Linked DNA regions of Homo sapiens: region 1 is linked to region 2. The links come from fine-mapping of genetic effects on gene expression. A gene starts in region 2. The other region holds a variant in brackets. All regions are shown on one strand. Distances are between the middles of the regions.

Evidence for each region. PIP is the estimated chance that this variant, and not a neighbour inherited with it, causes the effect.
Region 1: its variant is the best candidate, but not a certain one, in a credible set for the expression of ALDH1L2 in esophagus mucosa (GTEx, PIP 0.88).

What each region holds. Positions count from the first base shown.
Region 1 is chr12:105,267,392-105,272,772 of GRCh38, forward strand. No RefSeq gene overlaps it. Among named protein-coding and RNA genes, the nearest start is that of APPL2, 34 kb to the left of the region's middle. The variant T/C (reference allele first, on the strand shown) is at 2,234.
Region 2 is chr12:105,081,922-105,087,233 of GRCh38, forward strand. It overlaps ALDH1L2 (aldehyde dehydrogenase 1 family member L2), which reads right to left and starts at 2,537. Exons shown (of 23, transcript NM_001034173.4): 1 at 2,468-2,537. The coding sequence starts at 2,515. RefSeq lists enhancers at 1,380-2,180, 1,675-1,914 and a silencer at 2,415-2,844.

The DNA.
Region 1 (5,381 bases), 190 kb after region 2:
AGTGCATTGGCGCGATCTCGGCTCACTGCAACCTCTGCCTCCCAGGTTCAAGTGATTCTCCTGCCTCAGCCTCCAGAATAGCTGGGATTACAGGCGCCTGCCACCATGCCCGTCTAATTTTTGTATTTTTTAGTAGAGATGGGGTTTCACCATGTTGGTCAGGCTGGTCTTGAACTCCTGACCTCAGGTGATCCACCCGCCTCGGCCTCCCAAAGTGTTGGGATTACAGGTGTGAGCCACTGTGCCTGGCCAAGGCTCCATTATTAAACCAACTACTGCTGTAGGCAATTGAAATGTAATTTCACAGGGATGTTCTAAAAAATGGCGTAAAAAACACATCTCAGAATAATTCTTCCTGAGTAGCAAGTGGCTAGGGGAGATACATTTGGAGGGCTATTGGAGTGCAGACAGGCTGTGGTCATTTCCTGGTGCTTCTCTGCACAAGCATATGTCAGTTAGAATAGCTTTCCATGGTTCCAAAAAGAGCCTCCAGGCCCTAGAGGCCCACACTGGGAGCTGTGTCATCAGCTGGAGCGTCGGTGAAGACTGTAAGCAGGACACTGGTAACAGCTGCTACATTAACCACTGCAATCATCCAGGTTCATCTGGTTCCTATCCCAGCCCCACCATTACCAGCTATAAGATCTTCAGCAAATTTGTAACCTTTCTTAAGACTCGGTATTAAAGCTTAAGAATTAACACCAGCTTATGAGGTGGCTGTGAACATCAACTAAAAAATGTGTGTCAAGTAACCCTGGCACATAGTTTCAATTTATATATATGCGTGTGAGTCTGTGTGTGTTTCTGTGTTTGTGTGTACACATAAAGACACACACACATATTTCTTGGAGTAGTGAGATAAGAGACTGCGCTCATTGAATGTAGCTTTAGCAAGGCTCACTTAGACCCGAGAGGGCTACATATTACCGACCACACTGTAAAAGACTGATTTTTATATCAGATCATCACCCCGTTATTGAGCATATAAAATGTAAACAGGATCTAGATTGGCATTCCCTGGGCTTTAAGAAACTTTCAAGAAAGTAATACAAGAGAAAACTTCTGTAGCTGTCAGATGGCTTCCTGGCTCTCCCTGCTCTTACTTAGGCTATGATTTGGTCCTATAAACAAGACCCAAGTCTGGCTTTTTCACTAGTGGGAGAGTGACTCTCCTCTCCTAGCAGTGGAGATGAGGAAACAGAAGGTGCTGTAGCTTTCCAAGGGAACTGTTTATCTCAAGATGCCTCAAGGACCTCCACGTTCTCCTCTCAGTTTGGGGCTGTGGCTTACTCCACTGCTAAAACAATGAAATCTGCCCCTGAACAATAATTGTTTTATGGAAAGAAAAATGTTGTCAAAAAAAGAAAATCTTCATTGTTTTGCAAAATCTCTAAAAGGACCAGATATAAACTGTTGATTGACCAGTGTGCTTATTTTTCAAATGGAAAAATAACACCTTTTTTAAAAAAGTGACCTTTCATACAAAAGATACTGAAATTTTACAGGTCTTTCTTTTTTTACTGAGATATTATTGACATACTGAGAAAAATCTTGTATTAAAAAAACTTTTTGGTATTAAAAAAGGATGGATAATAGCTGCATTTGGTTGGATGTAAAATGTTAGGATTCAGAATTTGATTTGGATTTTAAAGTCAATCAATCTTCCAGTCAACATTACTAAAGGTCCAATTGGCAAGAGTATAAACTAAAAGAAGGCAAAATATTTAACAAAAGTTGATGGTTATTGAGTTTTCAAAAGAATGTCACTTTCTAACAGTTGTTCTTGAGAAAGGTTTTGCAATATCATCTGGGTATTTTTAAGTAAAGGACCAAGGTTTGGTTTCTGGTTTGATGTAAGGGCAGTTTGAGCCAGAACCAAGAAATGTACTGGTTCACTTTTTACAGTCTCTTCTTATCCTACACTCCTATGGCCTGACTGCAGCGAGGGATATCTTGAAAAGCTACCAGTTCAGTGGGTCTCCTCTGGGCATTCATTAGTATACCTACTTTGTTCGTAGAATGATTTCTTTCAAGCCTGGAACCAGAGTTGATTTTTGTACATGCAATTTCTCCTAACTCATTTCAATGTTTTGTTTCTCATGATACATTTTAATCTTTCTTAATTTTAGCCTTTTTACTTAGTCACCCCAATTCTTCGAACTGTCTGTACGTGTGATACCCAAGGTCTTATACCCTATTCTGTTCAGAGGAATGACCAGACAACCCAAACTTA[T/C]AGCTTTCCACTTACAGACTCACTTAAGCCCTGCTAAAGTGGGACTGAGATTTTCTGATTGCTTCTCTATCTGTCAGAATTTTGATTTTTAATCCCTGTCTGCTGGGTTTCAAAGTTCATGCATTTTCTTTATATCACGCACCTCTCTTTTTGGGTGCAAAACTGAAAGACAACAGCCTTTATATTTTTGATGAGTGTATGACTAATGCTGTTGCATCTGGATCGGAAAAGAGGAAATTCATAACAAATGGCCAGCAGTAATCACCTCTAAAGTACTTGAAATTGGTTGGGAAAAATTTTCAGAAGCTTTCCCAAAATTTTCATTTACCTCTTCTAGTGATTTTGGAGTTTCCCAACATAGATATTTAAGATTTTTAAAATGTTCCTTATTCATTGTATTTGCTTTCATATTTACTTTCATTATCATCAATTGAAACATCTTGTTCCTGCTATTTTTTTCTGCAAATAGGTGAATTTGAACAACATCAAGGCATAAATAGGCCTCTGTGGGCTGATCTGGGAGCCCTACCATTTAAAAATTGTTTATAAGAGAAAACATGTTCCAATTCTAAGCAAACAAATTAAAACATAACCCTTTTGTACATTGGACATGGCTGATTTGTGCCAGGTTAAGAGTATAAATTAGAAGCAAGGCTGGCCAAATTCAAATTCCAGCTCTGTTTCCAGCTAGCTGTGTCATCCTGAGCAAGCTTCCTAACCACGCTGAATCTCTATTTTCCTTTCTTCTTACCTGGAGGACATAGTACCTACTGCAGAAGGTTTCAGAGAGGTATGAATGATGTAATGTACATAAAGCACAGAGTAAAACTTAATAAATATTAGCTATTTTGATCCTGTTTTTAAGGTCCCATTCAGGCCCCTGACTTTAGTAGGAAGGTGAGAAGGAGGAAGGCCAGGGTCTAGGCTTTGCTTCTGGGGCCACAAGTCCCTTCTAGCATGCAAGCCAATAGTTTATTACAGAAAGACTTGCTGTCATAAGGATTCCCTGTATGACCCTGAAAAGTTTCACCATCTTCTGTGCCTGTTTTTTCTTCTTTAGGATGGATGTCAGCAATAATAAAACCTTCCTCTCCTTAACTCACAGACCTACTGAGAAAATAAAGGAGAGACTCTCTGCTTGAGGTCTTTGAACTAATCAGTTCCACATAAGGTGTCATGAATCCCAGACTTGTGAAAGTTCACATCTGTAGTCATCCTTTTTCGGTGAGTGAAGTAGGGAGGGGGAGACCAAATTCCAGTGAGTACTGGAACCCCTGGCTATGGATCTGTGCTTGGGATTTTGGGCTCCTCACATTCCAATACTTACAAGCTTCAGTTGTATTAAAGAACTTGGGAGACAGATGGACTTGAGGTCTGGCCCCAGCTTTGCCACTTATCAGCTATGTGACTCTGAGCAAGCCACTTAATCTCTCAGAGATAATATCAGTATCACCCTCAGAGGGCTGTCAGGATGAAATGAGGGGGTGCACACAGCATATTTAGCACAGTGTCCAACACAGGCTTCGTGCTCAAAGTGTCAGATTTGATGATGATGATGGTGATAACGATAATTTTTGTTTATTTACTGCTTAAAAGTGTCCACCCTTAAATATCACAACCGTTTATTATTCTTTTCTTAGTTGCTCTGCTGCTGCAGTGGTTTGAAACACAGGCTCAGGCTCTCCAAAGATATTCCCTTCTCTAGTTTCTGATAGAGTCATTTTGAAACTATTGCCCTAATTAAATCGCAATGTTGGCTGTATATCTATTGTCTGTTTTATAAGCCACATAATTGTTAAAAGAGAGAGGATGCTAAACATCTCTTTCTACATTTTCTTCTTTCTTTCAAAGTAATGAGTTTTCTCATTGTTTTAAGGAATTAGTCATGTTGGCAGGGTGTGCAGATTGTCATTTTGATGGATCCTCATAGTATATGACAAGATTTGACAAAGAGTTTTCAAAAATCATTAGGCTTGTCAAAATTCTATTCTGTGCTTTGTCAAGAGTCACCATCCTATATTATACATCTGAGAGTTTGTCAGATAACAAACAGAGTTGCCACAGCTGGAGTTGGATTGTGCTCCTCAGGTCCTCTGCACCAACTTCAACCTGAAAAACTACAATTTTGTATCTTAGAATTCCAGGTAAGATTTCATTTGAAAAGAGGTTCACGGCTAAAACGCTTGTGCTTTTCTGCACGCATGTCTTTCTGTAGACTTAGACAGGAAATCCATTTCTAGACTGGGAAAAACATTTTAATTAGCCATTAGTAGTGGGTCAGAGGAGTAAAACAGGAACAATGGGAAGTCTAAGAGAAAAAGGGAGGTAAGTATAGACCAATAGACACAGCACATTGGAGTAGAAAAATACTTTTTTTTTTTTTTTAATCAGACAGGATCTCAATCTGTTGCCTGGGGGGAGTGCAGTTGTTCCCTTTTACTGGTGGAGGGTCTTGACTATGAGTTGTCCAGGTTCTTGGTGTTTGGAACGAAGAATTGGACAAAACACACAAACAAAGCACAATGAAAGAATGAAGCAACGAAAGCACAGATTTACTAAAACAAAAGTACATTCCATGGAGTGGGAGCCTGCTCCAGCAAGCGGCTGAAGAGGCTGGTTACAGAATTTTCTGGGGTTTAAATTCTCTCTAGAGGTTTCCCATTGGTTACTTGTTTACACCCTATGTAAATGAAGGAGTGGCCCACGACCAGACTGATTGGTCATGGGAGGTGACCAGTCAGAGGCTGAAGTGAAATTACAATGTTACACATGAAGAATTGGGTAGTCTGATTGGTTGTGGGAAGGGACCAATTGGAGGTACTTTTCATTTATCATCTACCATGCAGTGCAAAGGGAGTAGCCTCTGATCCTTTTGTTACTTGGGTGTGGAGAGGTGGGGTTTTTCTTTTGATTCAGTTCTAGGAAGTCAACAGCGTGATCTCAGCTCACTGCAGCCTCGACTTCCCTGGGCTCAAGTGATCCTCCTGCCTCAGCCTCCCAAGCAGCTGGTACTATAAGTGCATACCACCACGCCCTGGTAATTTTTGTATTTTTCGTAGAGACAGGGTCTTACTATGTTGCCCAGGCTGGTCTCGAACTCCTGGACTCAAGTGATCCACCTGCCTCAGCCTTCCAAAGTGTTGGAACT
Region 2 (5,312 bases):
AGTGGCTCATGCCTGTAATCCCAACACTTTAGGAGGCCGAGGCAGGAGGATCACTTGAGGCCAGGAGTTCAAGACCAGCCTGGCCAACATGGCAAAACCTCGTCTCTACTAAAAATACAAAAATTAGCTGGGCATGGTGGTGCATGTCTGTAATCCCAGCTACTCAAAAGGCTGAGGCAGGAGAATTGCTTGAACCCCGGAGGCAGAGGTAGCAGTGAGTCAAGATTGTGCCACTGCGTTCCAGCCTGAGTGACAAAGTGAGACTCTGTCTCAAAACAATAAAAATTAAAAGATAATTTGCATGGGTAAAATGCACCCTCTTCAGTGTACTGTGCTGTGAGTTTTAACAAACACACAGTCACGTAACCACTACCATAATCAAGATGTAGAACAGTTCCATTACCGCCCAAATTCCTTTATGCCTATTTATAATCAATCCTTCCTCCTATCTCCAGCTCCAGACATCACTGATCTTTTTTCTGTCCCTATAGTTTTACTCTTCCAAAATGTCAGATAAATGAAATCATAAAATATGTAGCATTATGAGTCTGATTCTTACACTTAGCATACATATTTGAGTTCCATCCATGTTGTATGCATCAGTAGTTCATTCCTTTTTCCCCCAACTGAGTAGAATTCCATTGTATGGATGGATATACCACAGCTTGTTTATCCTGTCACCAGCTGAGGACAATTTATTTCCAGTTTTTGGCAATTATGAATAAAACCTCTAGAAACATCAATAAACAGGTTTCTATGCGGGCAAATAAGGTTTCATTTCTTTTGAGTAAATACCTAGGAGTGTGATTCCGGGGTCATATGATAGGTTTATGTTTAACTACATATAAAACTGCCAAACAGTTTTCCAAAGTGGCTGTACCATTTTATATTTCCACCAGCCATGTATCTGTTTGATTTTGAATAATTCTTATAAAACACAGTCCAGAACATTTTCTACAGGATAAAACATCCCACATTTTTCATTCACCACTCAGTAGCTTCCTTTCGACCACTGAGGAAACTGTCTTCTTCCCAGCCATGAGTATCACTGCTTTTCCATATGCACCCCTGCGTACAGTTAGACCCTGATCACGCCAGTTCTTCCCCACATCCATAGTTTTGTTTATGCCATTTGCCACCTGAGATGTTTACCTTTTATTACTGAAATCTTATGCAAACCGCACTATCAAAATCTTTTCATTCTGCAAGACTTCCTTCTGGTCACCAAAAAAGACAAGTCAGTGAAAGGTGTTGACAGAGGAGGCCAACAAAACAGGCTCAGGCATTGGGCACAGCCCGTTGCTTTCTGTGCTATCCATCTGGGATCCCATGTGCCACGTGGTGGGGGAAGCTAATGAGGGGTCCAGGAGAGCAGGCCAAAGTCCTAGCAGAGCAGGTCTTCCCCACCCCCACCCCTCGTTTTATAAAAGGTGACTATACCTCAAAGTAACTAGAACTGGTTGCAAAGAGTAAAACGAATTCTTATTATTTGGGGTTGTCTGGGATACAGAAAGCTTTTCCTTTGATGCAAGTTTGGGCCAGTTTTTGGTGCTACTCAAGACTTCTCTCTGCCTCCAAGTTTTTTACATCTGAATATATACATATGTACATATGGCTTTGGCATGGCCGAGAAAAAGAATCGATAAGCAAATTCTTTTATGTACTTCCTATAAAAGATACGATACATAAGACAGTTTTTATTTTTTTTTTTTCTCTCTCTCTCTTCCCTAAACAGTCCCGAGGCCCCCTGGGTGCTGAAGGCAGCACCGCAGTGCAACGTGTCCTCTCTCGGTTCCATTTCTGGAGGAGCTGATGCAATTCCAAGGCGCGGGGCTGGGCCAGAGCTCGGTTCTTGTGCTACAGTAGAATAGTGTTCCAGCGTGGCTGCCTCTGCAGCGCCTGGCAATTCTAGAAATTTTGCCATCTGCAGCTCAGCTCAGGAATACTGAGCTTGCAGCCATCAGCTTTGAGTGCCATTATCTGAACCGGCCCTGCGTGCCAGTCTCGAGCGCTTACACCTCCCAGGCCGCCAACGAGGACCCTATTGACTTGATACTCCCCTCCTCCAGGAGACAGTCTCGGTTCCATATGGCTCCAGCTCTTGACCAGGGATCTCATGATTGAAGTGAAAAAGGAAAGGAAGCAGACTCTGTCCTCCTTACCAAGTGACTGTTCCCACCTTGCCATCCCAGCCAGACTTGACACGTCCAAAAACTGCATCCTCAGCCCCCTCCCGGCAGAAGACAATGGCCTGCGTGCCAGTTCCCATCCGGGACCCTCCCCAAGCCCTCCTCTGAGGTCTCTCTGTTTTTGTTTGTTTGTTTGTTTGTTTTAAACGCTGTCTTGGTGTTTAGCAAAGTCTAAGCATCGCTGCTCATCCCCAGCCCCACCGCCCCGGCCCTCCCGCCCCGGAGTCTGGAAACCAGGACAGGGTGACAGCCGGGACGCTCGCCCGGGCCGGACTCACCCGGCCAGTGGAGAAGCGCCGGAGCGCCTGGCTGCCCCGCCGCAGCATGCTGGAGAGGAGCGCTAGCACTGGCGACGCGGCAGCGCGGGAGGCAGGCGGGCGGCGCAGCCTGGGCGCGGCCTGGGCGCGGCCTGCAGTCTGGATGCCCCGGACTGCCTGGCTCGCGGCTCGCCGCTCTCGGCCTCTGCTAGTCCGCACCCCTCCCAAAGCCCACAGCCCGCGGCCCGCCCCACCCTACCAGCTGCAAGGCCCCGCCCCCTAGCTGTCAAGACCCCGCCCCCAGCTGGAAGGCCCCGCCCCGCCAGCTGGCTGCGTTCGGACAGCCAACCTGGTGCGACCCGGCGGAGCGCGTGGGCTTCCTGGAGCCTGTGGGCCCTGACCCTGGTGCCAAGAGCGCACCCAGTCCCAGGGACCGCGCCTCTCCGCTGCCTGGACTTTCCGCCAATTCCAGCCAAGGTCCAGGTGCTTTCTAACTGTGGGACCCTCTACCAGTTACTCAGCCCCGCAGCAGTGTATACGGATCTACCTTATTAGTGGTCAATCTGACATCCCAAGTGCTGTCCATAGCACAGCCCGTAAAAGGCACGCCTGTAGACAGATAGGTAGTGGGGGCGCCTTCGCTGTGGAGGGATCCTGATGCCTACCTCGTAGGACGGTAGGCCGGGCGCGGTGGCTCCCGCCTGTAATCCCAGCACTTTGGGAGGCCGAGGAGGGAAGATGGCCTGAGCTCAGGAGTTCGAGACCAGCCTGGCCACCATGGTGAAACCCCGTCTCTACTAAAAATAAAAAATAATAAAATAATAAAATAATTAGCCGGGCGTGATGTCGCATGCCTGCAGTCCCAGCTACTCGGGAGGCTGAAGCACGAGGATCACTTGAGCCGGGGAGGCGGAGGTTGCAGTGGAGCTGAGATCATGCCACTGCACTTCAGCCTGGACAACAGAGCGAGACTCTGTCTTAAAAATAAATAAATAAATTGGTGCAAAAGTAATTGTGGTTTTTGCCACTGAAAATAATGGCAAACCCGCAATTACTTTTGCATCAACCTAATAGATACGTGCCCTTCTCCCTCACCTCTCTGGAAAAAACGCTCAGACCTGCTTTAGCTGGACGTTTATCTCAAGCCAGACTTCTTAGCCCAGCATTCAGGGCCGTCTGCAATTTGCCATTTTCTCTTATTTCTCACTGCTCTTTTGCATATGTAATTCTGCTTGACTGCAGTTCTTGCCTATTCCTTCTTGGACAATGTTTCCCAGAAAAGCTTGTCATCTGTCACTTGTAATTATCTTGGCACGACCGTTTCTTTTCTGAAAGGTACCGCTTACATGCTGCCTCCTGGAGGCGCTTTTTTCTGATTCTTTTCTCTCTTAGTCTCCTTATTCCCCATAAATAATTGTTCACTCCTCTTAACAGGAAATAATCTTTGTCTATGCATCTGTTATGGCTGTCTCAATCTGCTACTGGTATTTGTATACCTATTAACGTCTCTGTTGGAAGCTCCTTGCAAGCTAAGTCCATGTCTGATTAATCAGGATTTACAGTATCTAGCACTAACCAGAGCTTTAAAAAAATAATAATAAAATAAAAAATAACTTGTTAAAAAAAAACTTGTTGAAACGGATGAATGTGTTTAAGAGAGTAAGGAGACAAAAAAGAACCATCATTAAAACTTGGAGAATTGCGGTTGGGCGCGGTGGCTCACGCCTGTAATCCCAGCACTTTGGGAGGCCGAGGTGGGCGGATCACGAGGTCAGGAGATCGAGACCATCCTAGCTAACACGGTGAAACCCTGTCTCTACTAAAAATACAAAAAATTAGCCGGGCGTGTGGCGGGCGCCTGTAGTCCCAGCTACTTGGGAGGCTGAGGCAGGAGAATGGCGTCAACCCAGGAGGCAGAGCTTTCAGTGAGCCGAGATCGCGCCCCTGCACTCCAGCCTGGGCGACAGAGGGAGACTCTGTTTCAAAAAAAAAAAAACTTGGAGAATTGCAACAAACATCCAAGGTTTTGCTTTGAGCCCTACATCTTGCCAATTCAACCCACTTTCCTGACTGCATTTTGTGACTTCTTGCTTTTTTAAACTTCCAAATATTGATATTCCCTTTATTTATTCTGATCTGTGTATACTAGAAGGGTGCATAAGGAGGGGTTTTTTTTTTTTTTTTTTTTTTTTCCTGAATGAGGTTCCATAGTTATATATTACTATTCCCAAGTTTAGGAAATGTAGAATTTATGTTCACTCAAATATAATGAAATATTCATTGTGTTTACTTTTTCCCTGGAAGAATCAAAAGTATAGTTTCCTTGATAACTGGAAATTAGATCAGATGCAATTAGAGTTTGACAAAGAGACCAACCCCTGCCAATCTATTTCTATACCCAGCAAAAATACTCCTTAAAAATAGAGATAAGACAAAGCCATTTTTAGAAACAAAAACTTGAGAGAATTTGTCATCGGCAGACAGACAATAAAGGAAATATGAAAGAGTATCCTTCCAGCAGGAAAAAAAAATTTACCCACATGGAAACCTAGAAATGCAAGAAGCCCAACAAAAAAGGCAAAGACGTGAGCAAATTTAAAGTGAACATTGGACTGGACGTGGTGGCTCACGCTTGTATTCCCAGCACTTTGGGAAGATGAGGTGGGCAGAGTTCGAGACCAGCCTGGGCAACATGGTGAAACACTGTTTCTACAAAAAAATACAAAAATTATACAAAAATTAGCCAGGCATGGTCACGTGCCTCTAGTCCCAGCTTCTCGGAAGGCTGAGTAAGGAGGATCGCTTGAGCTGGCAGATTGAGGTTTCAGTGAGCTGTGGTTGTGCCACTGCACTCCAGCTGGGTGAC